Homo sapiens: one gene and its partners. The protein of the gene in region 1 purifies or fractionates together with the protein of each later gene. This does not show direct contact. Each region holds a gene or a part of one and is shown in the gene's direction. Other genes may lie near its edges.

Region 1 (3,500 bases):
CAATACATAATAGTTCTGCTTTGGCTAAATTTAAAGGCCTACTTGGCTTAAATCAAAATGAGTTGTTCTGACTTGATGTTTTTCTGTTGGGTTCTTACAAGTAATATTTTTAGATGATCTCTAGTTAAAGAGAACTAACCTCTTGAGAATGTTTGTCAAAGTTGGGCAGTTTGTGAAGTTATTTAACAGAAATTTTATGAAAGTTGTGAGGAGTGGGTGATCTTATTTTAATTCTGGGGTTGATTAAAGGCCACCTAGAGGATCATACAGAATTTATTTGGACTTTCCATGATATACAATCCCTTGGCAGAACTTTTCTTTTTAATTCTAATTTAACAATATTAGGTATAATTGAATGAAACTCTCTTATTTAGTTTAGTATCAAGAATATCTGAACACTATTGTGCCTTTAAGTGCCTTTTATGATTTTTAGGCCAAACTGATAATTGGTCTTATTTTACATTTTACTAATATGTGTTTCCTGTGAAAATTCCCAAATTTTCCTGAGTTCTTTATATTTGAAAGTATTAAAATGTTATATTGCACAAGGATAAGACTAGAGATGGGTGTATGTTAATATTGAGAAGACTATGTCCTGAGGAAGATAAAAATTTGCTTTGTCACCCAGAACAGTTTGTTTTGGAAGAAGTTAAATTTTTTCATTGTAATATATTACATTATTTGATGATTTGGGGATTAATTAATTAAATCTTAATTAGGGCTACTTAATTAAAAACTTTTTTTTTTTTTTGAGACGGAGTTTTGCTCTTGTTGCCCAGGGTGGAGTGCAGTAGCACGATCTCAGCTCACCACAACCTCCGCCTCCCGGGTTCAAGCGATTCTCCTGCCTCAGTCTTCCGAGTAGCTGGGATTACAGGCATGCGCCACCACCCCAGCTAATTTTTTATTTTTAGTAGAGACGGGGTTTCTCCATGTTGGTCAGGCTGGTCTTGAACTCTGGACCTCAGGTGATCCGCCCACCTCGGCGTCCCAAAGTGCTGGGATTACAGGCGTGAGCCACCGTGCCCAGCCTTAATTAAAAACTTTCTTAACAGCAAAAGTCACTTTTCCCAAATATGTCAAAGTCTTCTAGATTCTGATCTTGCTTCTAGATCATCTTAGTTCATCCTGTAGTTTAGTGATTCTCAGTGAATCCTTACATCAGAATCTCTGGGTTACTTGTTAAAAAATGCTTGCACCCTTCTCCAAACATTTAATTAAATTTTAGGGAGCAGGTCCAAGAATTGCATTTAAACAAGTACCTCAGATATGTGGTGTGCAGAATAAAGCTTGAGTACCTAGATCTGGAAGCAGCATAGTTATTAATGTTAAAATTAAAAATCATTGATCTGTCTACTTTGGCAGAATGTAAACGTCAGGTTTACAGGGACCATGTGTGTCTCATTTGCCACTATATTCACAGTACCTTGCAAATATTAAATGCTTACTAAATATTTGTTGAGAATGAATGGAACTAATAACTTTTTTCCTCCCCCACCCCTGACTTTTTTTTTTTTTCTTTAGCAAGCAAGGACTTAGCACAGACTTCTTACTTCATGGCAACCAACAGGTTTATATTTTAATTTTTTTTTCTCTTCGATTTTTGGTATAGGACTTTACTTGAGTTTGATACAGTGTGCTATAGATAATTCTCTGGTGAATGTTGATTTTTCTGCACAGTTTTCATGTTGTACTTTAAATTTCCATGGTACTTTTTAATTTTCTAAGGTTATGTAATTATTTAGTACTGATTTTTTTGATAACCTACTCAGTTCTGCATGATAGTGACTGAAAATCTAATTTGGAGTATTCTGCAATAATTATATGTGTATATATATATATATATATATATTTTTTTTTTTTTTTTTAAATTATTATTATTATTTTTTGAGACAGAGTCTTGCTCTGTTGCCCAGGCTGGAGTGCAGTGGCACAATATCAGCTCACTGCAAGCTCCACCTTCCAGGTTTACACCATTCTCCTGCCTCAGCCTCCCGAGTAGCTAGGACTACAGGTACCCGCCACCACGCCCAGCTAATTTTTGTGTTTTTAGTAGAGATGGGGTTTTACCTTGTTAACCAGGATGGTCTCGATCTCCTGACCTCGTGATCTGCCCACCTCAGCCTCCCAAAGTGCTGGGATTACAGGCATATATATATATATATATATATATTTTTTTTTTTTTAAGACAGAGTCTCACTCTGTCTACCAGGCTGGACTGAAGTGGTGCGATCTTGGCTCACTGCAACCTCTGCCTCCCGGGTTCAAGTGATTCTCCGGCCTCAGCCTCTTCACTAAGCTGGGATTATAGACTGGCGCCACCATGCCCCGCTAATTTTTTTGTATTTTCAGTAGAGATGGGGTTTCGCTATGTTGACTAGGCTGGTCTCAAACTCCTGGCCTCAAGTGATCCGCCTGCCTTGGCTTCCCAAAGTGCTGGGATTACAGGTGTAAACCACTGTGCCTGGCCAATAATTATATTTTAAAATATTCCTTTTTCTTCCCCCTCTATCAATCAATGGGCACTTATGGATGTTAAGAGTTTCAGTCTTTTTCCTTCTTCCCTTTTTAAAAAAAGTAAATGAGACTGGGCACAGTGGCTCATACCTGTAATCCCAGGCTGAGGCTGGTGGATCACTTGAGGCTAGGAGTTCGAGACCAACCTGGCCAACATGGTGAAACCACATCTTTACTAAAAAATACGAAAATTGGCAGGGCAAGGTGGCACATGCATGTAGTACCAGCTACTCGGGAGGCTGAGGCACGAGAATTGCTTGAACCCAGGAGGCAGAGGGTGCTGTGAGCCGAGATTGCCCCACTGCACTGCAGCCTGGGTGACAGAGAGAGAGACTCTGTCTAAAAAAAGTAAATGATTAGTACATAACTTGTATTACCAAATGACTTGCCCAACATTGTTAGTTAATGGAAACCAATGATATCCCTAGTAACTGTCAGGGCTAAGAAGTTCATTTTTATAGCCTGTTACGAAAAAGTTTTGAAATAAACCAACATATTTATACTTGAGAGAGTAGTTGTCTGTTTATTATTTTAAATAGACCAGAACTATGATTGGTGAGAGACAAATTATTTTTAAGATATTTCCTTAAGTTTTTGATTTACGGATTACACAGACCAAAAAGCTTACAATTTTCCTTAGGATCTGAGCTTAGTCTCAGGATAATAGGTAATAAATATTGACTTCTAGGCTTGAATACTGGCCCAGAAGTCAATGTTTTAAAGAACTTGAATTCCCAGCCTTTTTCCTTTTTTCCTTTTTTTTTTTTTTGGCTCTGGTCAATGTGTAGATTAAGTGATGTGTAATTCAAGAGTTTTTAAAATGTTGTTACCTGAACAGGTGGGTTAATAGGAAATTATATTGAGTGCTAGATCAGAGCATTGCATATTTCTTACCCTTCTTACTCTCCTGTCTATTTTTAAGCCTTTTTTTTTTTTTTTTTTTTTTTTTTTAAATAATGGAGAGTTTTAGCTTTGGGCTGAGA
Region 2 (3,500 bases), on another chromosome or scaffold:
AAGATTTACCTGATTAAAATGTACAATTCAATAATCTTTTAGTAAATTTACATAATTGTTCAGTCATCACCACAATCCAATTTTAGAACATTTCCATCATTCCAGAAAGATGCCTCATGTCCATTTGCAGTTACTCCCTGTTCCCACCCCCAGCCCCAGGCAATCACAAATATACTTTCTGTCTCTATAGATTTGTCCTTTCTGGACATTTTATGTAAATGTAATCATATAATATGTGGTCCTTTGTGTTTGGCTTCTTTTACTTTCCATAATGCTTTTTGAGGTTCATCCATCTGCCATGTAGTACATGGTTCCTTTTTATTGGATACCAGTTAATGGGCATTGGATTGTTTCTGCTTTTTGGCTGTTTGGAACAAGGCTGCTTTGAGTATTCACATCAAGTCACCCCATGAATATGTTTCATTTTTCTTGGATGTATACCCAGGAGTGGAATTGCTGGGTTATATCACAAATTCAACTGTTTAAGAAACTGCCAAACTGATTTTCAAAGTAACTGTACCATTTTATGTTCCTACTAGTAATTATAAGAGTTCTTGTTTCTCTAAATTTGTTGTCTTTTTGCGTGTAACCATCCTAGTGACTATGAAGTGGTATCTCATTGTGGTTTTGATTTGCATTGCCCTAATGACTAATGATGATGAACATCCTTTCATGTCCTTATTTATTAGACTTTCATGGATCTTCTTTGGTGAAATATCTATTCAAATCTTTTGTCCACTTGGACTGCCCATTGGGTTGTTTTTTTTTTTGTTTGTTTGTTTGTTTTGAGATGGAGTCTTGCTCTGTTGCCCAGGCTGGGGTGCAGTGGTGCCATCTCGGCTCACTGCAACCTCTGTCTCTTGAGTTCAAGCAACTCTCCTGCCTCAGCCTCCTGAGTAGCTGGGGTTATAGGTGCCTGCCACCATGCCCAGCTAATTTTTGTGTTTTTAGTAATGATGGGGTTTCACCATATTGGGCAGGCTGGTCTCAAACTCCTGACCTCAGGTGATCCGCCTGCTTGGCCTCCCAAAGTGCTGGGATTACAGGGGTGAGCCACTGCGCCTGGCTGTTCGTTTTTTTTTTGAGTTATAGAAGTGTGTGTATGTGTGTTTGTATGTGTATTCATTCTGGGTATGCGTCGTTCATCTGATATATGATTTAATTTAAATATTTTCCTGTCTGTAGTTTTTTTTTTCTTCTCATTTTCTTTCTTTTTTTTTGAGACAGTCTTACTCTGTCACCTAGGGTGGAGTGCAGTGTCATGATCAGGGCTCACTCCACCTCCTGGGCTCAAGTGATCCTCCCACCCCTGCCTCCCAGGTAGCTGGGACTACAGGTACATGCCACCACGTTTGGCTAATTTTTGTGTTTTTTGTAGAAACTGGGTTTCGCCACATTTCCCAGGATGGTCTCAAATTCCTGATCGCTCAAGCGATCTGCCTGCCTCAGCCTTCCAGAGTGCTAGGATTACAGGCGTGAGCCACTGCGCTTAGCCTTCTTTAATTTTATTATTATTATTTTTTTTTGAGTTGGAGTCTTACTCTGTCGCCCAGGCTGGAGTGCAGTGGCATGATCTTGGCTCACTGCAACCTCCGCTTCCTGGGTTCAAGCAATTCTCCTGTCTCAGCCTCCCAAGTAGGTGGGATTACACATGCGTGCCACCACACCAGGCTAAGTTTTTGTATTTTTAGTAGAGACTGGGTTTCACCATGTTGGCCAGGCTGGTCTCGAACTCCTTACCTCAGATGATCTGCCTGCCTCGGCCTCCCAAAGTGTTGGGGTTACAGGTGTGAGCCCCCGCGCCTGGCCTCTTTCATTTTCTTAATGGAGTCTTTTAAAGTACAAAAGTTTTGAATTTTGATGTTTATCATTTTTTTCTTTTATTGATTTTGCTTTTGGTGTTGTATCTAAGAAATCTTTACTAACCCAACATTGTGAAGATTTTTTTTTCCTGTTTTTTTTTAAGTGTTAGTTTTAGCTCTTGCATTTAAGCCTCTGATACATACTGAGTTAATTTTTGTGTATGGTGTGAAGTAAGGTGAACCACCTTGTTTTACAGTTGAAGACACAGAGACAGAAAGGTAACATGACTGCTTAAAGCCATGTAGCTAATTAGAGGCAGAGCCAATACTGGCATCTGTGTCTCCTGTAGCCTAATTCGGGATCCTTGTTCCTGTATCTACATTGATTCGTTCTTGGATATAAACTGGAAGATGGGGGTCATTGTCTCACAGATTAAGGGAATGATCTCCCCTGCTTTTTTCTGAGAAGGGTCTCACTCTGTCACCCAGGCTGGAATGTAATCACAGCTCACTGTCTCACTGTATGAACTCCTGGCTCGAGTGATCCTCTTGCCTCGTCCTCCCCAGTAGCTGGACTACAGGCATGTGCCACCATGCCCGCCTCATTGTTTTATTTTTTTGTAGAGACAGGGTCTCATATGTTGTCCAGGCTGGTCTCTACTTCTGGGCTCAAGTGATCCTCCCACCTTAGCCTCCTAAAGTGTTGGGGTTTACAGGTATGAAGCACTGTGCCTGGCCAAGGGAAGTATCTATCCTTAGAGTGAAAAAAATCTGATGGATGTTCCACACCTGTCACGTCCTTCCAGTCTGCTCCTGACAGCCTCTCTCCATTTTCCCAACAGGGAGAAAAAAAATTTTTTTTCTTTGAGCTACAGCCTAGTATAAGTAGCAAGTTTCAGTAAAGCATTGTATTCTTATTCTAACTTTGCTTCCATACCAAAATGTTTGTTACATAGTATTTTATAATAAGCTATAGTCTTCAAAATGAATCTTTATGATTTCAGATTACACTCAACTTTTTCAGGAAACACATGATTAAAATCTAGAAAAAAGGGTTTGGGATCATTTAAATTTTGTTTTCAAAGGATTGTATTCTAGAGAAATCAGTGTAATGGTGTCATCTCCATCAAAACACGTACATTTATTTGAACTGTAACATGTTTATTTGAACTGTAATTTTTTTCACATTTGCTTCTCAGCAGTATACTATTTATGGGATTGTTTCTCACATTCTGTTTTGTTCTTCGTCTTTCTGGTAAAATCCTACAGAGAACAGAATCTCCTCTTAGGAACATATTAAAAGCCTATAGATTGAAAATTCAAAGGACTTTTTTTTTTTTTTAAAGAATTGTATCACCTTAAGCATGCTTTGGCAAGATTTGAAGTTCTTTAAGTATGATTATGTGTAAAAGATGTTAGTATCATTCTCACAATTAATCATTGATCTTTCAGTATTTTTGAGCCCTTAGTCTTAGATTAGAATTTCTGAGCATGTGTTATACTGTATTTGGCATGTGTTGAAGCAGCTGTAAAAATTTGGGCTTTGGGGTTAGACTGACCCAGATTCAAATCCTGACATTGCCTCTTACTAGTTATGTGATCTTAGACAAATTATATGATTAGTTTCCGTGTCAGCTTTTTGTCTGTATAGTGGGGAGAATAGTACCTATGTCACTGGGGCCGTTATATAGATTGAGT
Region 3 (3,500 bases), on another chromosome or scaffold:
TGCCTAAATTCATTATTTTTGTTTCTAGTAAAAGGACCACCCCTATCTGTTAAACATGAAGCCCAGAAATATATTCAAGAAAAACAACTGCAAGACTGATATTCAGCACTCTTCAACAGCTCAGCCCCATCTTATCTCTCCAGTCTTTTCATGCTCTATTACTGTGTAATACCAGACTATTACAGAACTTTGGTGTTTTGGACCTCCCCTAAAACATTTAAATTTCCACTTCCAGGCCTTTTCATAGTCTTCCAGACCTAAAATGCTCACCCTTCACTCTCTGCTAGTCCAGTTCTTTTAATGCTTGCCTTAACCTTCCCTGAGGTTTTCTAATTTCCCTAGCCAGAAACAATCTTTTGAACTCTTGTGGAATTTTTAAAACTACTTTTTTTACCATTTTAAATAAGTGGCACACATGTTATTAATTAGATATGCCCAGTATGTAACTACTTGTGTTCAGATGTAAGGACCCTAATTTAATGTAAGCTTTTTGAGGGCAGGGATTGCCTCATATATCTTACTGTCTGTTTGGTTTCTAACTTAGTGCCTTAAGAGCTTGTTAATGTGTCTTTCCACGACTAGACTGTGAACTTTTTGGGAGCAGGGACCACAGTTTAATGGCATTTGTGATGGCAGTGTCAGGCATCTAGAAGGTACTCAGTAAATGTTTATTGGATAAGCAGATTAACTTGTATGAGAAAGGTTGTTCATAAGTGTATGGATTTTTATAAAGGGCTGTTTAACTATTATTTAAAAAATGACCCCGGGTGTTTGACTTTTTCCTAATTGATATAATCCGTATCCATTTTTATATATTCTGCTAGATCCTTTTCTACTACAATATGCTCTTTAAGTGTTCTTTTTTCTCGTAATAAAATCAATCCATCAGTAAATGATTGCTTATAAGTGTCAGTTTTCTGTATTAGCCCAGATGCCCCAAAACTCCTATTAAAGGAAAAAAAAAGGTAATTTAAAATGTTTTTTTTCTAGACTTATTGCCCTTTTATTTTATTTTATTTTATTTTATTTTGAGATAGAGTCTTGCTCTATTGCCCAGACTGGAGTGCAGTGGTGCGATCTTGGTTCACTGCAACCTCCACCTCCTGGGTTCAAGTGATTCTCCTGCCTCAGCCTCCCTAGTAGCTGGGATTACAGGTGCCCGCCACCATGCCTGGCTAATTTTTTTTGGTATTTTTAGTTGAGACAGGGTTTCACCATATTGGCCAGGCTGGTCTCAAACTCCTGACTTCAAGTGATCCACTCACCTCCGCCTCCCAAAGCGCTGCGATTACAGGTGTGAGCCAGCGCCCGGCCTATTGCCCTTTTTTATAGCTTTGGACATTTGACTTTTTTTTTCTTTTAATAGTAATTTAGAAATTACATTTTACTGTGGCTTTACTTATTTAAAAATGTGTTTGTGGATTACTGTGATAAATTTGGTATTTACTTTCTTTCAGCCTGCTTGAATTTCTTGAAACTGTGCAAAATAAAATATTACAATTATTGCCTTATTCACAATGTACAGGTGAGTTGGTAGATATTAGTCATTTCCTTTGTTATTGGAACTATCTAACAAACTCTGTGAATTAACAAAGAATCCTACATATTACAGAGGGATTTTATCATACAAACTGGCGATCCTACAGGGACTGGCCGTGGAGGAGAGTCTATCTTTGGGTAAGTTGTTTTATTTATTTATTTATTTATTTATTTATTTATTTATTTACTTTTAACCTCTGGAAGGGCAGAACAAATTCTTTTATTCTTAAATGAGGAAAAATATAATTGCTCATGCTTCAATCTGCATTTTAAAATATGGTTTAAATTTAGATTTTTTCCCCCAAGTTCCCTAAAAAAAAAAAAGTAATATTTTGAATTCTGTTGGCATTTCTGTAAAGAAATAATTGATAACCCTGTATGTTACTAGTACTTCTGTATTTCATTTTGAGAGTACTTACATTTATAACCTTATATGTTTTTTCAGCCAACTGTATGGTGATCAAGCAAGCTTTTTTGAGGCAGAAAAAGTCCCAAGAATTAAGCACAAGAAGAAAGGCACAGTGTCCATGGTGAATAATGGCAGTGATCAACATGGATCTCAGGTTAGGAAATGAGTAAGAATATGAGATTTGCTTAGAAATGAAGGACTGGAAGGAGCCCACAGAGTTATTTTTTAAACTATCCAGTAAGGCTTAGAGGGTTTCAATCAGAAATATGTGTTAGGGGAAAAAATGCACTTTTTCTATATTAAAAAATATTATTTTCTTCTTTTAAATGTAAAGCATTCCTATTGTGAAGAATTGAGAAAATACAGAAAAGTACAAAGAAAAACATTACCTACAACTCCACCATCCGTGATTATCACTGTTCACATTTGTGGCTCATTTTTCAGTATTTCTTTTTATTTAATTAATTAATTTATTTTTATGAGATGTAGTCTCACTCTGTCTCCCAGACTGGAGTGCGATGGCACAATCCTCGGCTCACTGCAACCTCTCCCTCCCGGGTTCAAGCAATTCTCCTGCCTCGGCCTTCCGAATAGCTGGGATTACATGCGCCTGCCACAACACCTGGCTAATTTTTATATTTTTAGTAGAGACGGGGTTTCACCATGTTGGCCACGATGGTCTCAATCACGTGACCTCATGATCCGCCTGCCTTGGCCTCCCAAAGTGCTGGGATTACAGGCGTGAGCCACCGCGCCTGGCCGTTTTTCAGTATTTCTTACTTTTTTAAAAACATTACGCAGAGTACCTTCTATTCATTGTCTTGTTTAATTCTCCCAATGACCCTGTTAATTCTCCCAATGACCTACTTGTTAGAGTAGGTACTTCTGTTTTCTACTATATACACATGAAGTTGAGTCATGGCTTGTCTAAGTATTTTGTTTTATTTTATTTTATTTTATTTATTTAGAGACAGAGTCTTGCTCTGTCAGCCAGGCTGGAGTGCAGTGGTGTGATCTCGGCTCACTGCAACCTCCGCCTCTCAGGTTCAAGCGATTCTCCTGCCTCAGCCTCCCGAGTAGCGGGATTACAGATGCCCACCACCACGCTCGGCTACTTTCTGTATTTTTCGTAGAGACAGGGTTTTGCCATGTTGGCCAGGCTGGTCTCAAACTCTTGACCCCAGGTGATCCACCTGCCTTGGCCTCCCAAAGTGCTGGGATTACAGGTGTGAGCCACCGTGGCCGACCAAAAAATACTTTATTACTAACAAGTGCTTCTGATCATCTGAGCCTTCAGTAAATCATAATCTTTTTGCTGGTGAAGGGTCTTGCCTTGATGTTGATGGCCGTTGACTAATCTGGGTGGTGATTGCTGAAGGTTGGGGTGACTGTGGCAGCTTCTTAAAATAAGACAACTGACTGGCGTGGTAGCATACATCTGTAATCCCAGTACTTTGCGGGGGCAAGGCAGGCAGATGGGTTGAGCTCAGGATTTCGAGACCAGCCCAGGAAACATGGTGAAAACCCCATCTCCACAAAAAAATACAAAAAT
Region 4 (3,500 bases), on another chromosome or scaffold:
AAGTAAAAGAAGAGAAAATGGAAGAAAGGGACCTGCTGTCCGACTTACAGGACATCAGCGACAGCGAGAGGAAGACCAGCTCGGCCGAGTCCTCGTCAGGTACCTGGAACCGCCTGGCCAAGGCCTTGACCACTGCTGCCCAGGAAGGCCCAGGTTCACCCTCTGCTCTGCTGTCTTTCTACAGCGGAATCAGGCTCAGGTTCTGAGGAAGAAGAGGAGGAGGAGGAAGAGGAGGAGGAGGAAGGGAGCACCAGTGAAGAATCAGAGGAGGAGGAGGAGGAAGAGGAAGAGGAGGAGGAGGAGACCGGCAGCAACTCTGAGGAGGCATCAGAGCAGTCTGCCGGTGAGGCACCGCGACGACTATGTGAGGTGTTGTGACTTCACTATAGTGTTAGAAACCGCAGAGAAGTAGCTGGCGGGCGGGGGAGTTGAAACTCCCTTCTATCTAGGACTCTCTCGGGACACCTCCACATCGATTCTTTTTGTTTGTTTTTTTGAGATGGAATCTTGATCTGTTGCCCAGGCTGGAGTGCAGTGGCATGATCTCGGCTCACTGCAACCTCTGCCTCCCGGGTTCAAGTGATCCTCCCGCCTCAGCCTCCCAAGTAGCTGGGAGTACAGGTGTGCGCCAGCACGCCCGGATAATTTTTTTATTTTTAGTCGAGACGGGGTTTCACCACGTTGGCCAGGATGGTCTCGAACTCCTGACCTCAGGTGATCCACCCGCCTTGGCCTCCCAAAGCGCTGGGATTACAGGCGTGAGCCACCGCGCCCGGCCTGCATATCCATTCTTGGGAACACTTGTTGCTTAGCTGAAGCGGAGCCCGCATCCTGCCTGTGGCAGCACTCGCCCCGGTGCTGGTCTGAGCAGACGCCTCCTTTCTCTTGCAGAAGAAGTAAGTGAGGAAGAAATGAGTGAAGATGAAGAACGAGAAAATGAAAACCACCTCTTGGTTGGTAAGAACCTCCCTGGAGACAGAGCCCCCTCCTTGTCTGTCTCCGAGTGCAGCAGCCCTCTCCTAAGACAGCCGGTCCTGCGCAGCGTGGGGCACGCCAGGGTCTGGGAGGCCGCCTGATTCGTTGGCCGCTCCAGGCTGTGCCGGTGGGGCCCGCATTCCTCAGCGAGGCACAGTGCTGACCAAGGGCGTCCTGAGTGCCCAGCAGGGCCGAGGAGCTGGGAAGCCCAGGACCAGTTCCCCACAGGGGAGGCCCGTCAGATGGTGGCTCCGGGCCTGTCCCTGCAGAGCAGAGGCCTGGCCCAGCCTCCGACAGGCAGTGAGGTTATGTCCTCAGCCTGGTGGACGTGGATGTGGGCTTGTCCCCCACATGACACCCGACGCCTCCTCCCAGCTCAGCATCCGGGCTCTGTCTCAGCCGAGCCTGCCAGCACTCTTAGGCCTCGGTGCCCTGTGTCCAGGGGACGAGAGCCCAGCGCCAGCACCTCCCAGCGGGACACGGGGCAGCCCTGCCACGCGCTTGATGCCCCCGGGGCAGGAGGAGGTTCATGATCCTTGCTTACTCCTAGCTTCGTAATTAGGTTCAACTTTTCCAGTTCCAGAGTCACGGTTCGACCGAGATTCCGGGGAGAGTGAAGAAGCAGAGGAAGAAGTGGGTGAGGGAACGCCGCAGAGCAGCGCCCTGACAGAGGGCGACTATGTGCCCGACTCCCCTGCCCTGTCGCCCATCGAGCTCAAGCAGGAGCTGCCCAAGTACCTGCCGGCCCTGCAGGTCAGGCCCTCCCCTCGCCCCGGGCCACTGTCCGCATTGGCAGTCGGAGTTACCACAGGGGCTGAGCGAAGCCTGGCCCCCGTGTTGGCGTCTGTCGCCTCACAGGGCTGCTGGGCCCACTGGGGCAGTGACGGGCGGGCACAGCCACTGGCCCCTCATGCTTCTAGGTCCCGCCTCTTTCTCATGCTGGACGGAACTGGGTGGACAGGGAGCTGCCCGCAGGACTGCTCTGCGGCTTGAAAGGCAGCCTGGGCGTGCGGCCGCGCTGCTGTCACTGCTGCCCGAGTTGCGTCCTCCTCCGCACTGGAGAGCAGTGCCTTCCACTTGACCCCTGCGTGGGCGGGTTATGTAGGCACCAAGGCCTTGTTACCGGCATCTGTGCAGGGCTTGGATGGGGGAGCGGCTACGGGAGTCAGTGTAGATGTGTGACCAGAAGCCTTTTGCTTAGGCAGCTATCAATAAGGCAGGATATTGTTGGGAGCGATTTGGAAGGGACAAGCCTGAGAAGGTGCCAGTGGCCTCTGGGGCCTGGGAGACCGGCAGGGACTCGGCCCCCTCCTTGGTGCCTGTGGGCGGAGAGGTTCTCTCTGGCGCATGCAGCAGGCCTCTGTCGACTGCCCTATGCCTTGTGAGCGCCTCTGCCCCTTAGTGCTGCTGAGCGTAGGCGTCGGGCCACAGGCCACCCCGAGTACATGACATCCGGCCTGGGCACCGGCCCCAAGGTACACGGAGGGGTAGGTGCCCTGGCATGGGGCATCATGCTGCGCCTGGCAGGTAGGGCCCGTCCTCAGTGTCATCCTGGTACAAGCAGGGGACACATCCAGTTTGACAAAGAGACTCTTGGGATGGCTTTTTTTTTGGAGACTGGGTCTGTCTCTGTCACCCAGGCCGGAGTGGAGTGGCTTAATCATAGCTCACTGGAGCCTCCCCCTCCCAGGCTCAAACAATCCTCCCATTTCAGCCTCCTGAGTAGCTGGAACTACAGGCGCAAGCCACCATGCCTGGCTAATTTTTTTATTTTGTAGAAAGGAGTTTTGACCGGGCACAGTGGCTCACACCTGTAATCCCAGCACTTTTGGAGGCCGAGGCGGTGGGCGGATCAGAGGTCAGGAGTTCGAGACCAGCCTGGCCAATATGGTGAAATCCTGTCTCTACTAAAAATACAAAAATTAGCCTGGCGTGGTGGTGCGTACCTATACTCCCAGCTACTAGGGAGGCTGAGGCAGGAGAATCGCCTGAACCCAGGAGGTGGAGGTTGCAGTGAGCCGAGATCTCACCATTGCACTCCAGCCTGGGTGACAGAGCGAGACTCCGTCTCAAAAAAAAAAAAAAAAAAAAATAGAAAACAGAGTGTTGCTATGTTGGCCGGGCTGGTCTTGAACTCCTGGGCTCAAGCAGTCCTCCTGCCTTGCCCTCCCAAAGTGCTGGAATTACAGGCCTGAGCCCTTGCACCTGGCTGGGATGGCCTTTTGTTCACACTGGTTTTGTTTCATAATAAAGTGTCAGATGGTTTTGCAAGGAAAGAGACTTTGAAAGAACTGAGCTGCTCCCGGCTCCACCCCCGGCCCAGTCCCAAGGCTCTGCCCTGCACCTGCCCCGTGCCGGGTGTGCCGTGCCTGTGGACGCAGCCGCCCTCCCTCCAGCTGGCATGGCCACTGAGACCTCACACAGGCGCTTCCTTCCCAGGGCTGCCGGAGCGTCGAGGAGTTCCAGTGCCTGAACAGGATCGAGGAGGGCACCTATGGAGTGGTCTACAGAGCAAAAGACAAGAA
Region 5 (3,500 bases), on another chromosome or scaffold:
TTTGTTTGTTCCAGATATGGTTGTGGTATGTGTGTTTTATTGTGTTTCTTAAAATGGCAATTTTGGGAGAACAGGTATATATATGTATAGATAGGCAGAGTGGTTTAGAATTCACATCCAATTTTTGCTAATATTTCGCATCAACTCCTATTTATCTCGATGTATTGCAGGGTGGTGGCCTTGTCCATGTCACCTGTGGATGACACTTTCATTTCTGGGTCTCTTGATAAGACCATTCGACTCTGGGATCTCCGGTCTCCTAACTGCCAGGTAATGGTACCTCACAGTTATACTTTTTGAGCATTTTCTTTGGTAGGCACTGTAATGAACTCTACCTCTCAAAGAAGGGAGAAAACAGTGGTTCCATTCTGGGATCACAGGGTCTTTTTAAACTTTGGAGAAAATCTGTTTTTTTAGTTGGTAGCTGCTAAGCACATACCCTAATCTAGTGCAGATTGCATTGTACTCTGTGGCTTAATTGTTGTGGGTTTTTTGTTGTTTTGTTTTGTTTTTGTTTTTGTTTTGAGACAGGGTTTCGCTCTTGTTGCCCAGGCTGGAGTGCAATGGTGCAATCTCAGCTCACCGCAACCTCCACCTCCAGGGTTCAAGCGATTCTTCTGCCTCAGCCTCCCAAGTAGCTGGGATTACAGTCATGCACCACCATGTCTGGCTAATTTTGTATTTTTAGTAGAGACGGGGTTTCTCCATGTTGGTCAGGCTAGTCTCCTGACCTCAGGTGATCCTCCTACCTTGGCCTCCCAAAGTTCTGGGATTATAGGCGTGAGCCACTGCGCCCAGCTGGCTTAATGTTTTTAAAAGTGTTCCTAGAGCTTTTAGCTTCAAGGGATTTATTTTTATTTGAATTCTGTGTCTGTAATATTGTGCAGTTAGAGTTGATCAGAAATTGTTGTCTGGAGACCTGTTTTTTAAAAGCTTCATTTTAGTTTTATGTTTTTTTTGTGTGTGTTCTGTAGGTAGGCTGATATTTGTTTGTATGCCTTTCTTAGTTTTAATTGGGAAAAGTAAATTATATAGTGGTAAGGTCCTGGATTCATTTTTTTTTCCCCATTGTACCAGCAGTCTTTGGTTATTCCACGTATGGTTGTGGCATGTGTGTTTTAGTGTATTTCTTATTTCTTTTCTCTTAGGGCCTCATGCATCTGCAGGGGAAGCCAGTTTGTTCTTTTGATCCAGAAGGGTTAATTTTCGCTGCAGGTGTCAACTCTGAAATGGTCAAGCTTTATGACCTTCGTTCTTTTGATAAGGTAAATCTTTGAATCTTTGAGATCTTTGAGCTGTTTTTTGTTTTGTTTTGTTTTTGAGACAGAGTTTTGCTCTTATTGCCCAGGCTGGAGTGCAGTGGTGTAATCTCAGCTCACTGCAACCTCTGCCTCCCAGGTTCAAGTGATTCTCCTGCCTCAGCCTCCCAAGTAGCTGGGATTACACGTGTCCGCCACCACGCCTGGCTAATTTTTTGTATTTAGTAGAGATGGGTTTCACCATGTTGGTCAGGCTGGTCTCAAACTCCTCACCTCTGGTGATCCACCCACCTCGGCCTCCCAAAGTGCTGGGATTACAGGCGTGAGCCACCGCGCCCGGCCCTGTAAGAGCCTTTTCTACAAAAGGAAAAATGTGGTAGATATTAGAGAGTGGCAGAGAAGTAGCTCATTCTCTGCTTTCCTTAGTCAAAAAGTAATCTAAAGGAATAGGATGGGAATTGGCTCTAGCAGAAGAAATTATTAATATGCCTGGGGCTACTGTTTTTTATCTTTTGCAGGGGCCATTTGCTACCTTTAAGATGCAGTATGATCGAACTTGTGAGTGGACAGGACTTAAATTCAGCAATGATGGCAAGCTCATCCTCATTTCCACCAACGGCAGCTTCATTCGTCTGATTGATGCATTCAAAGGAGTGGTGATGCACACATTTGGGGTGAGCTGACAGCCTTCAAGCATGGCTGTTTCCATGCTCATACTTCCTATGCTAAGAATTATGTTAGCTGGTTGGTGGAGACCAACAGTTACTCTTGACTTACTCATGAAGGCATGCACTTGTATTTTCTTCCTGCTCATGAACTTACCTCTCTTGGATTTCGTAGATGTTCATTTCTCACCAAGTGACCCAAGTTTGGTATTTAGATATAAAATAATTTCCTAACAATAAAGTTTTCTTGCCCCCTTGAGTATGCCTTGAATACAGAGTTGAGGGTGGGAGTGGATTGTCAACGATGGCAACCACATTTGGAAGCTTGGTGGTGTAGTACATGACAAGGAAAGGGTTTCATGGAAAGGAAGGTGATGCATGTGCTGAGTCAGTGTTTGTAGGCAGCTGTTTTTATTAATGGCTCTGTAAGAACAAAAGAACTGCTCTGTTTTGTTTTAGGGTTATGCCAACAGCAAAGCTGTCACACTGGAGGCTTCATTTACTCCAGACTCTCAGTTTATTATGATTGGTGAGTTTCCTTTTATCCCCTGTGGGGGTTATTTCTCTGGTACTATGCATTTCTTTGTTTAAATTATTAACTGAGACATTATTATCTATTTGATAGATGTTCTTAGATTTCTGTATAGCACATTATGCCAAGGACATAGTGTCTTTTAACTGCCCTGACTGGACCAAAATTTGAGTTAAACTCCACAAGCACTACCTTATTAGTAATGCTAATGTCCTGGTGTAACCCTACATTCAGTCATCTTAGTGGCTGCCTGTTGGTAGGGTAATGGTATTCGGCCCCTTTTTTAGATGAGAAAACTGAAGTTAGAACGGAAGTGACATGCCTGTGAACAAATAGCTAGGGTCAAGATAAATTTCCAAAGTGTCCTTCCTTCACTGCCTCTCCTCCCTCTCAATTTTGCCTGAGGGATGGGTCCTAAAGCTTGGCGTATCCTCAGATCTCAATCCATGTCTCATTTCCAGTTGTCTTTGTATTGCGCCTTGAGCTGTTACATTTTCCGTGAATATCCTCTTTAGGTTCAGAGGATGGCAAGATCCATGTCTGGAATGGAGAGAGCGGTATAAAAGTAGCTGTGTTGGATGGTAAACACACAGGCCCGATTACCTGTTTGCAATTCAACCCCAAGTTCATGACTTTTGCCAGTGCGTGTTCCAACATGGTATGTGAACAGTAAGAGGTATCTGCTACTCAGGGACCCTTCCCAGTTGGGGTGGTGGGTGCCTCAACAAGCACAGCAAGCTGTGTTCTACATAGGTACATTACAAGCATCCAAGTACATGTTTCTCAACTGGTGGTTTCCCTATTTCATCTCCTATTATTTGATCTCTGGCTGGGCTGGTCTTGCCTTTCATTTTTATTCTTCCTAGAGGTGATCAGGAATCATCTTTGAGTTCCAAGGAGATCATAGGCCAGTTTTTGCTCTGGACCCTAATTTTAGGTCCAAACTACCTGGGCTATGCTTGGCAATTTTTTTGCTCCTTAAAATACTCTGAACCGGCCTTTTGTGGTTTCAGTTTTCCATTCCTGTTGGTTTACGCCAAATTC
Region 6 (3,500 bases), on another chromosome or scaffold:
CTCCAGAGACTGCTTAACCACTCAGCTGTCCTTTGTCTTGAGGACAGTCTTGAGTTAAAACTCAAAACTTTAGGTAATTTTGAATTTGAGCTTAGTGACTAGAATTTTGTACTTTGGGCACTTAGATTTTATACGCCTAAAGATCATTCTCAATCTTTAAAGACTCTCCTACCTTCATAACTTGAATTAGCCTAAATTTTTCTCAGACTTTTCCCCCTATAAGTCAAGGTTCAGGAAAAAAAAGACCTTCTGGATTATGGGATGGGAGATTTCTGGGGACAAAGGATGAGAATATAGCCTATATAAAGAACAAAGTTGAAATGTCTTGGAATCTTTTTACTGAAATCTATGTGACTTCTTTCCCTTCCATAATAAAACAATGATGGTGTTTTGTTTTTTGTGTGTGTTTGAGATAGGGTCTTCCTTTGTTGCCCAGGCTGGAGTGCAGTGCATGATCATGACTCACTGCAGCCTTTAACTCCTGGGCTCAAGTGATCCCCTCCTGGGTTCAAGTGATCCTACCTCAGCCTTTTGAGTAACTGGGACTACAAGCACATGCTGCCATACCCAGTTAATTTAAATTTTTTTGTAGAGATAGGATCTCACCATGGTCCCCAGGCTGGCCTTGAACTCCTGGGCTCAAGGAATCCTCCCACTTCAGCCTCCCAAAGTGTGGGCTTACAAGTGTGAACCACTGCACATGGCCTGGTGGTGTTTTTATAATACCAAGATACTGCACTTTTTCCAAGTCTTTGAGAAAAATTAATGATCCAGAGAACACTACTGTATTTGTCATGTGTCTTCTCATACTCCATTAGGGAGAAGTCAACCCAAATTAAAACCTGACTTTCACCAGAGGACGTAGCTTCTTCTGCACATCTCTTAAATACCTTTTCCTGCCAGAAATGGAAGTTGGCAATGTGACATCCAAAAATCAAAGTTCTTTGAGTATGGTACCCTGTAGTGGCTATGTGTTTTTCACTCCCCCTCATTGTTGTCAACTAATTAGTAACTTCTCAGTCATACCGCCATTCTCTCTCCCCCACCCCTTCTCCCAGCAAGTTTATTCAAGACTATGAGACCTGGCTAGACAACGTACTTTTGCAGTTCCTGGGCCTCTGTGACTCCAGTGAACCTTTAATTCTCTCTCAACTACCCACTCCTAGAACCATATATTATCTTGTTATCTCCTGGAATTGGTCTACTTGGAATCTTTTTTTTTTTTTTTTTTTTTAATGAGATGGAGGATTCTCTCTGTTGCCCAGGCTGGAGTGCAGTGGTGTGATCATAGGTCATTGCAGCTGCAAACTCCTGGGCTCAAGTGATCTTCCACCTCAGCCTCCTGAGTAGCTGGGACTACAGGTGTGCACCACCATGCCTGGCTCCACTTGGAATCTTTACCTCAGTGTCTTTCACAACACTGATCGACTTGAAGTTTGCTATATATAACTGCCTTTTGTCACCTTCTTTCTCTATTTGAAATGCCCCTTTTTCCCTTCTTGTTAATTCCTTACTCATTCTCTAGGGCGGTGTTACTCAATTTTTTTTTTTTTTTTTTTTTAAAGACAGGGTCTTGCTCTGTCACCCAGGCTGGAGTGCAGTGGCCCCATCATGGCTCATTGCAGCCTTGACCTCCCAGGCTCAAGTAATCCTTCCACCTCAGCCTCCTGAATAGCTAATTTTTTTTATTTTTAGTAAAGATGAGGTCTCACCTAGCTAATTTTTTTATTTTTAATAAAGATGAGGTCTCACTCTGTTGCCCAGGCTTGTCTCGAACTCCTGGGTTCAAGTGATCCTCCTGCCTTGGCCTTCCATGGTGCTGGGATTACAGATGTGAGCCATTGTGCCTGGGCCAACCTTTATTTTTTAATCCCTGTCCTTTCTCAGTAAACGTTTCTTCTTTCCTCCTAACATCCCTGCTTAACAAATTGGTTTCTTTCTGTGATCTACAAAACAGTGTCCCTGACCGTTCTCGAAATTAGTTTAGGTGATCCTTCAGTGTTCCCATAATGCCCCTATTTGTGTCTTCATCATTGCACTTCTCCAGTATTTTATGGTTATGTCATGTGACTTAGTTTTCCACCAGACATTAATTTCTTTGAAGGAGGCAGATACTGGTTTTGTAATCTGTTTTCTTTCTTTTTTTTTTTTTTTTGGTTTTGAGACTGCGTCACACTGTGTCACCCAGGCTGGAGTGCAATGGCGCAATCTTGGCTCACTGCAGCCTCCGCCTCCCAGGTTCAAGAGATTCTCCTGCCTCAGCCTCCCGAGTAACTGGGATTATAGGCATGTGCCGCTACATCTGGCTAATTTTTGTATTTTTAGTAGAGAGGGGGTTTCCCCATGTTAGTCAGGCTGGTCTTGAACTCCTGACCTCAGGTGATCTGCCCACCTTGGCCTCCCAAAGTGCTGGGATTACAGACGTGAGCCACCATGCCTGGCTTGTACATCTGTTTTCCTGCCGCGTGGCTTAATGCTTACCCATGGTTGGTGAGTTTTTTTTAAATGTTAAAGAGATTGTGAGTAGACAGATGAATTCTTAGGTTGCAAGGATAAACTTACTAAAAGTATAGGAGTATATAATATGAAGACCTGACAAAATAATCCATAGCTTCCTCCAAAAATAGTATGATGGCCTGAATCTAGATAATTTAAGGCCACTTTTGGTCTGATATTCTAGGATGATGGTTTATTATGGAGTAACTTTTAAAGAGAAAGTTAAATAGTGCTTTTGAACCAGTATTTAACTTGGGATTCTTAAACACCAAGGGCTCGACAACGTAATTTAGAATCATAAACTTTTTAACTCAGCATAAGCCAAACATTTAAGCACAGAATCCCCCACTTTATTTATTTATTTCCATAGCATCTGTTAATGTAAATGTATTTTGGGAAACTGAGTTCTCATTTGAAATTCAGAGAGATTAAATCACTTGCTGAATGAATATTGGGCTGTACTGTATTAAATTACTGATATTAGACTTGTTGACTTACAAAAGGCCCTTCCATGTGGTTCAGCCTAATGTCGTATGATTGCTTACTACAAGCCTAGAGTCCTAACTTCCGGTTTAGTTCACTTTGAAGATTCAACTTGTGAGGATGTGTTTATACTATCACCATCATCAGTATCAGCTACCAATGCACATTGATTGAGTGCTTATTTTGGGTATAGCTCAGTATTGGCTCTAGAGTTTTGTTTTGTTTTGCTTTGTTTTTAAGGTATAAGATGAAATCTGCTCAAAACAAGTGACCTGCTGGGTTTACTGTAGAGACACCAAGTTTCATGAATTTCAAGTGGAGAAGGAGATTAGTCTTCCAGTGTATGTTAATAGTTAGTAGGTCTTATTAAAAAAGAAAACGGGCCCTTTGGTTGTTAATGTGTGAGAAATGTTGGTTTAAAAATTAAGTTACTGAGTGGCTTCTTGTACTAAATCAATGTTAATGAGGTTTTGCTGTGCCTGGTTTGCTTTTCCCTTTTTCTCTAACCTGTACTTTTTAAG
Region 7 (3,500 bases), on another chromosome or scaffold:
ATGAGCTGGGCCTGAAGACATTGAGCAGTGATGTCAGGGTGGCTTCCTGGCAACCTCCATTGCCAGTTAAGGCATTTGGTTTGTCTTTTCTCAAGCAGTAAGAAGCCTTCAGAGATTTCTGAGCAAGGGGTAATAGGTGCAGGGTATTTCTGAAGATGAATCTGGTAGCAATGTTTAGGTTGGATGAAGGGAGGAAATACTGGAGGCAGAGAAACTGAGAAACCCAAACATAAGGTAGTGAGGCCCTTCCTGTATTAGGGTACTGGCAGTGGGATAGAAAGGGAATGATGTGCAAAGCGTTCCTGAGGGAAGAATAATCAGGAACTGGTAATAATAGACTGTCCCAGAAGTGAAGAATCAGCATGTAGCATTTCAAACCTTGGTTACTTAGATAACAACTAATATATTCATGTCGCAGAGCTATAAAATACAATTTGAGACTGAAGAAATTTGGTCACAAGATAGAATCAGTAACGTTAGGAAGGGGTGGTCCACTAAATACTTTCGCTTTTTATCTCCCTGCTTTCTGTATCATCTCATCAATCATACACACCAGCTAATATCCCCAAAATACAGAATTACCTGTATCATGCCATCTTTCTACTTGATAATGAGTCTTAAAATGTTTCTGTTGCCTGCAGGACTAGGTTCACAGTTTCCAAGGCCTTTCACTATCTGGCCCCTTTCTGTTCATTAGGCCTTATCTTTTATTTTTTGCTTTTGTGAATGTTTTCCAGGCTAGTTTTTTCACTGGTACTTTAAAACTTACTCAAAAGTGTAGAGATCTGAGATGTCTGGTATTCCTTTACTCCTGTTACTCCTCTGTTTTGAGTACCTTCTCTTTGTTTCTACCCATGTCTTACCAATCCTTAGTGAGTAATCTTAAATCCCACCTCTTCTATGATTCTCAATAACATAAGGTAATGTCAACTTAAAAAAAAACTTCCTAAATATTTTTATGTCTTTTATTATCTGTTATGTAAGCTTAAGATTCCTAAAATTAATGACAGATCTCTTTTTTAAAAAAGGACCACGTATTATACTACTTGCTGCTGCTCCTGATGCCTTAGGGCAAGATACAAATTAAACACCATAATTATAAACAGAATGAAATCATAATACCACATTCATAAGGCTTTTATTTATTTTTTAGATTAATAAAGAACTCTTCAGAATTCCTGGTGTTTCATCATATATACGACTAAGATATCAGTAAGTAGTGAATGTTTGATAAAGATATAGCTTTATTATGAATAATTGTAGTGAAAATATCTTTTCATCTGTTGAAATCTTGGTCTGTCTGCAAAACAGTTTTAATATGAACTTACTCAGTTCTAGCTGCAAGATACCTTGCATGTTACTTCATAATCTAAATGAAGAAAGTGGGAATTAAGGAAGACTTAAGTAGAAAAGAGTTTCCCTTAGGCCATTAATATAATTGTGGTACAGTAAGCTTTTTGACAGGGATAATTTCCAAGGTCCTTTCCAAAATTGTATTTATAAACGTTTTTCATCAAATAGAGAATTAATGTCTTTGTACCCCAAATAAGAACACATGAAGGCCAGGCGTGCTGTCTCACACCTGTAATTCCAGCATTTGGGGAGGCCAAGGTGGGTGGATCACTTGAGCCCAGGAGTTAAAGACCAGCCTGGGCAACATAGTGAAACCCTGTCTCTACAAAAAATTAGCCGAGTGTGGTGGTGCGTGCCCGTAGTCCCAGCTACCCAGGAGGCTGAGGTGGGAGGATCACTTGAGCCCAGGAGGTTGAAGCTGCAAATGAGCCATGATTGCACCACTGCACTCCAGCCTGGGTACCAGAGCAAGATCCTGTTTCAGGAAACAAAAACAAGTCAATATATTTTAAATTTTAACTTACCAACAGTTATTTATTGAACAACCACTATGTGCAGGGATGTGCTAATGTACTAAGGATAAAAAAATGGATCAAGCCAACTCCTGTACTCAGAGAGCTCTCCCAAGCAAGGGCAAATACATGTGGATGGGTTCTGGTTTATGGTGTGGTAAGGACAGTGAGCTTATTTAATACTAGCCATGCCCCATTCCTTCCTTTAAGAAACATTTATCGGCTACCACTGTATATTAGGCACTGTGGAGGCGCTGGAATGTAACTGTGATGAAAACAGAGAAGGTCTTTACCTTCATGGAGTCTGCATTCCAGTGTGGGCACAGGAGGGGAGAAGGTGACAGACAAAGCAAGTAAATAAATAAGTAGCAATTAGAGAGCACTAAGTATTTTGAGGGAAATAGAATGATGTTGTAATGGATGTGAAGAAGGACTTTAGGGTGGTCAGAGAATGACTACCTCTGAGAATGACTCAGAATAAATTAGAGACAGGGAAAATATATATAAAAGTTAGAGGTTTTGGTCACAGTGAAGAGAGAAGAAAATTTGAGAAATATAATGAGTTGTTATGAAAGTATATCACTGGAAGTGTTTTATAAAGGTCATTGATAAACCTCTATACAACTTAAGCCAATGGACATTTCTCTGGCTTCTCAGACTTAGTGCAAATGGGAGGTGAGGAAGTGGAGATATATCTGTGGACAAATATTCTGAGAACTTTTGCTGTGAAAGGGAAACCCAAAAATGATGTAGTGGTTGTTGGGGGTTGAAGGGTTAAGAGAGGGTTCTTATAAGTTGGGAAATTCTAGAGTATTTTTATAAGCTTGTGGGAATGGTACATCAGTGATACGTTGATGCAGGGGAAAGAGCGAATGACTGAAGATGTCAAGTCTTTCAGAAGGTGAATAAGAATGGGATCAACGGCACACATAGAGGGATTGGCCTTGGATGGGAGCAGGACTATTCTATACAACAGGAGACCCAACAGTGTACATGCAGATAGGTTAATAGATGTAGTATCTGGAAAATGAGAAATTATTGTCTAATTTTATTTTCTGATTGAAGAATGAAATGAGATTATCAGCTGAGACTAGGGTGGAGGGAGGGATGGGTGATCTTTGAACAAAGAGGAGGAGGTGTGGAGTAGTAGTCTCAGAAACTGAAAGTCAACCTACTAAGAAAAGTCAGATTGAAGGGTAATACTTACGGCCTGTTTGAGGCCTTTGGCCATGAATTTAAAGAGCAAATAGCGTTAGCCAGGTGTGGTGGCAGGTGCCTGTAATCCCAGCTACTCGGGAGGCTGAGGCAGGAGAAATACTTGAACCCAGGAGGTGGAGGTTGCAGTGAGCTGAGATCTTGCCACTGTATACCAGCCTGGGTGACAAGAGTGAAACTCTGTCTCAAAAAAAAAAGAAAAAAAATGGGCCAGGTGGATCATGAGGTCAAGAGATCGAGACTATTGTGGCCAACATGGTGAAACTCCGTCTCTACCAAAAAGAATTAGCTGGGCGTGGTGGTGCATGCCTGTAGTCCCAGCTACTCAGGTGGCTGAGGCAGGAGAATCACTTGAACCCGGGAGATGGAGGTGGCAGTGAGCCAAGATCGTGACACTGCACTCCAGCCTGGCAACAGAGT

What was found.
Region 2: the proteins of CCNT1 (region 1) and OXSR1 fractionate together in Homo sapiens (co-fractionation; one large-scale study listed by BioGRID). This does not show direct contact.
Region 3: the proteins of CCNT1 (region 1) and PPIL4 purify together in Homo sapiens (affinity purification with mass spectrometry; one large-scale study listed by BioGRID and IntAct). This does not show direct contact.
Region 4: the proteins of CCNT1 (region 1) and CDK11B purify together in Homo sapiens (affinity purification with mass spectrometry, with the first as the bait; one large-scale study listed by BioGRID). This does not show direct contact.
Region 5: the proteins of CCNT1 (region 1) and WDR82 purify together in Homo sapiens (affinity purification with mass spectrometry; one large-scale study listed by BioGRID and IntAct). This does not show direct contact.
Region 6: the proteins of CCNT1 (region 1) and PRP4K purify together in Homo sapiens (affinity purification with mass spectrometry; one large-scale study listed by BioGRID and IntAct). This does not show direct contact.
Region 7: the proteins of CCNT1 (region 1) and CPSF2 purify together in Homo sapiens (affinity purification with mass spectrometry; one large-scale study listed by BioGRID and IntAct). This does not show direct contact.

The regions. Positions count from the first base shown.
Region 1 is NC_000012.12:48,696,208-48,699,707, reverse strand, and holds part of CCNT1 (cyclin-T1), read left to right. Parts: intron 1-1,524; coding exon 1,525-1,570; intron 1,571-3,469; exon of another isoform or gene 3,470-3,500. UniProt on the Homo sapiens protein: Regulatory subunit of the cyclin-dependent kinase pair (CDK9/cyclin-T1) complex, also called positive transcription elongation factor B (P-TEFb), which facilitates the transition from abortive to productive elongation by phosphorylating the CTD (C-terminal domain) of the large subunit of RNA polymerase II (RNA Pol II).
Region 2 is NC_000003.12:38,168,537-38,172,036, forward strand, and holds part of OXSR1 (serine/threonine-protein kinase OSR1), read left to right. Parts: intron 1-3,500. UniProt on the Homo sapiens protein: Effector serine/threonine-protein kinase component of the WNK-SPAK/OSR1 kinase cascade, which is involved in various processes, such as ion transport, response to hypertonic stress and blood pressure.
Region 3 is NC_000006.12:149,539,544-149,543,043, reverse strand, and holds part of PPIL4 (peptidyl-prolyl cis-trans isomerase-like 4), read left to right. Parts: intron 1-1,457; coding exon 1,458-1,525; intron 1,526-1,612; coding exon 1,613-1,677; intron 1,678-1,984; coding exon 1,985-2,102; intron 2,103-3,500. UniProt on the Homo sapiens protein: PPIases accelerate the folding of proteins. It catalyzes the cis-trans isomerization of proline imidic peptide bonds in oligopeptides.
Region 4 is NC_000001.11:1,638,505-1,642,004, reverse strand, and holds part of CDK11B (cyclin-dependent kinase 11B), read left to right. Parts: intron 1-3; coding exon 4-99; intron 100-184; coding exon 185-343; intron 344-891; coding exon 892-957; intron 958-1,552; coding exon 1,553-1,728; intron 1,729-3,414; coding exon 3,415-3,500. UniProt on the Homo sapiens protein: Plays multiple roles in cell cycle progression, cytokinesis and apoptosis. Involved in pre-mRNA splicing in a kinase activity-dependent manner. Isoform 7 may act as a negative regulator of normal cell cycle progression.
Region 5 is NC_000003.12:52,258,150-52,261,649, reverse strand, and holds part of WDR82 (WD repeat-containing protein 82), read left to right. Parts: intron 1-170; coding exon 171-270; intron 271-1,148; coding exon 1,149-1,265; intron 1,266-1,777; coding exon 1,778-1,933; intron 1,934-2,383; coding exon 2,384-2,453; intron 2,454-2,971; coding exon 2,972-3,114; intron 3,115-3,500. UniProt on the Homo sapiens protein: Regulatory component of the SET1/COMPASS complex implicated in the tethering of this complex to transcriptional start sites of active genes.
Region 6 is NC_000006.12:4,027,800-4,031,299, forward strand, and holds part of PRP4K (serine/threonine-protein kinase PRP4 homolog), read left to right. Parts: intron 1-3,500. UniProt on the Homo sapiens protein: Serine/threonine kinase involved in spliceosomal assembly as well as mitosis and signaling regulation. Connects chromatin mediated regulation of transcription and pre-mRNA splicing.
Region 7 is NC_000014.9:92,124,969-92,128,468, forward strand, and holds part of CPSF2 (cleavage and polyadenylation specificity factor subunit 2), read left to right. Parts: intron 1-1,153; 5' UTR 1,154-1,212; intron 1,213-3,500. UniProt on the Homo sapiens protein: Component of the cleavage and polyadenylation specificity factor (CPSF) complex that play a key role in pre-mRNA 3'-end formation, recognizing the AAUAAA signal sequence and interacting with poly(A) polymerase and other factors to bring about cleavage and poly(A) addition.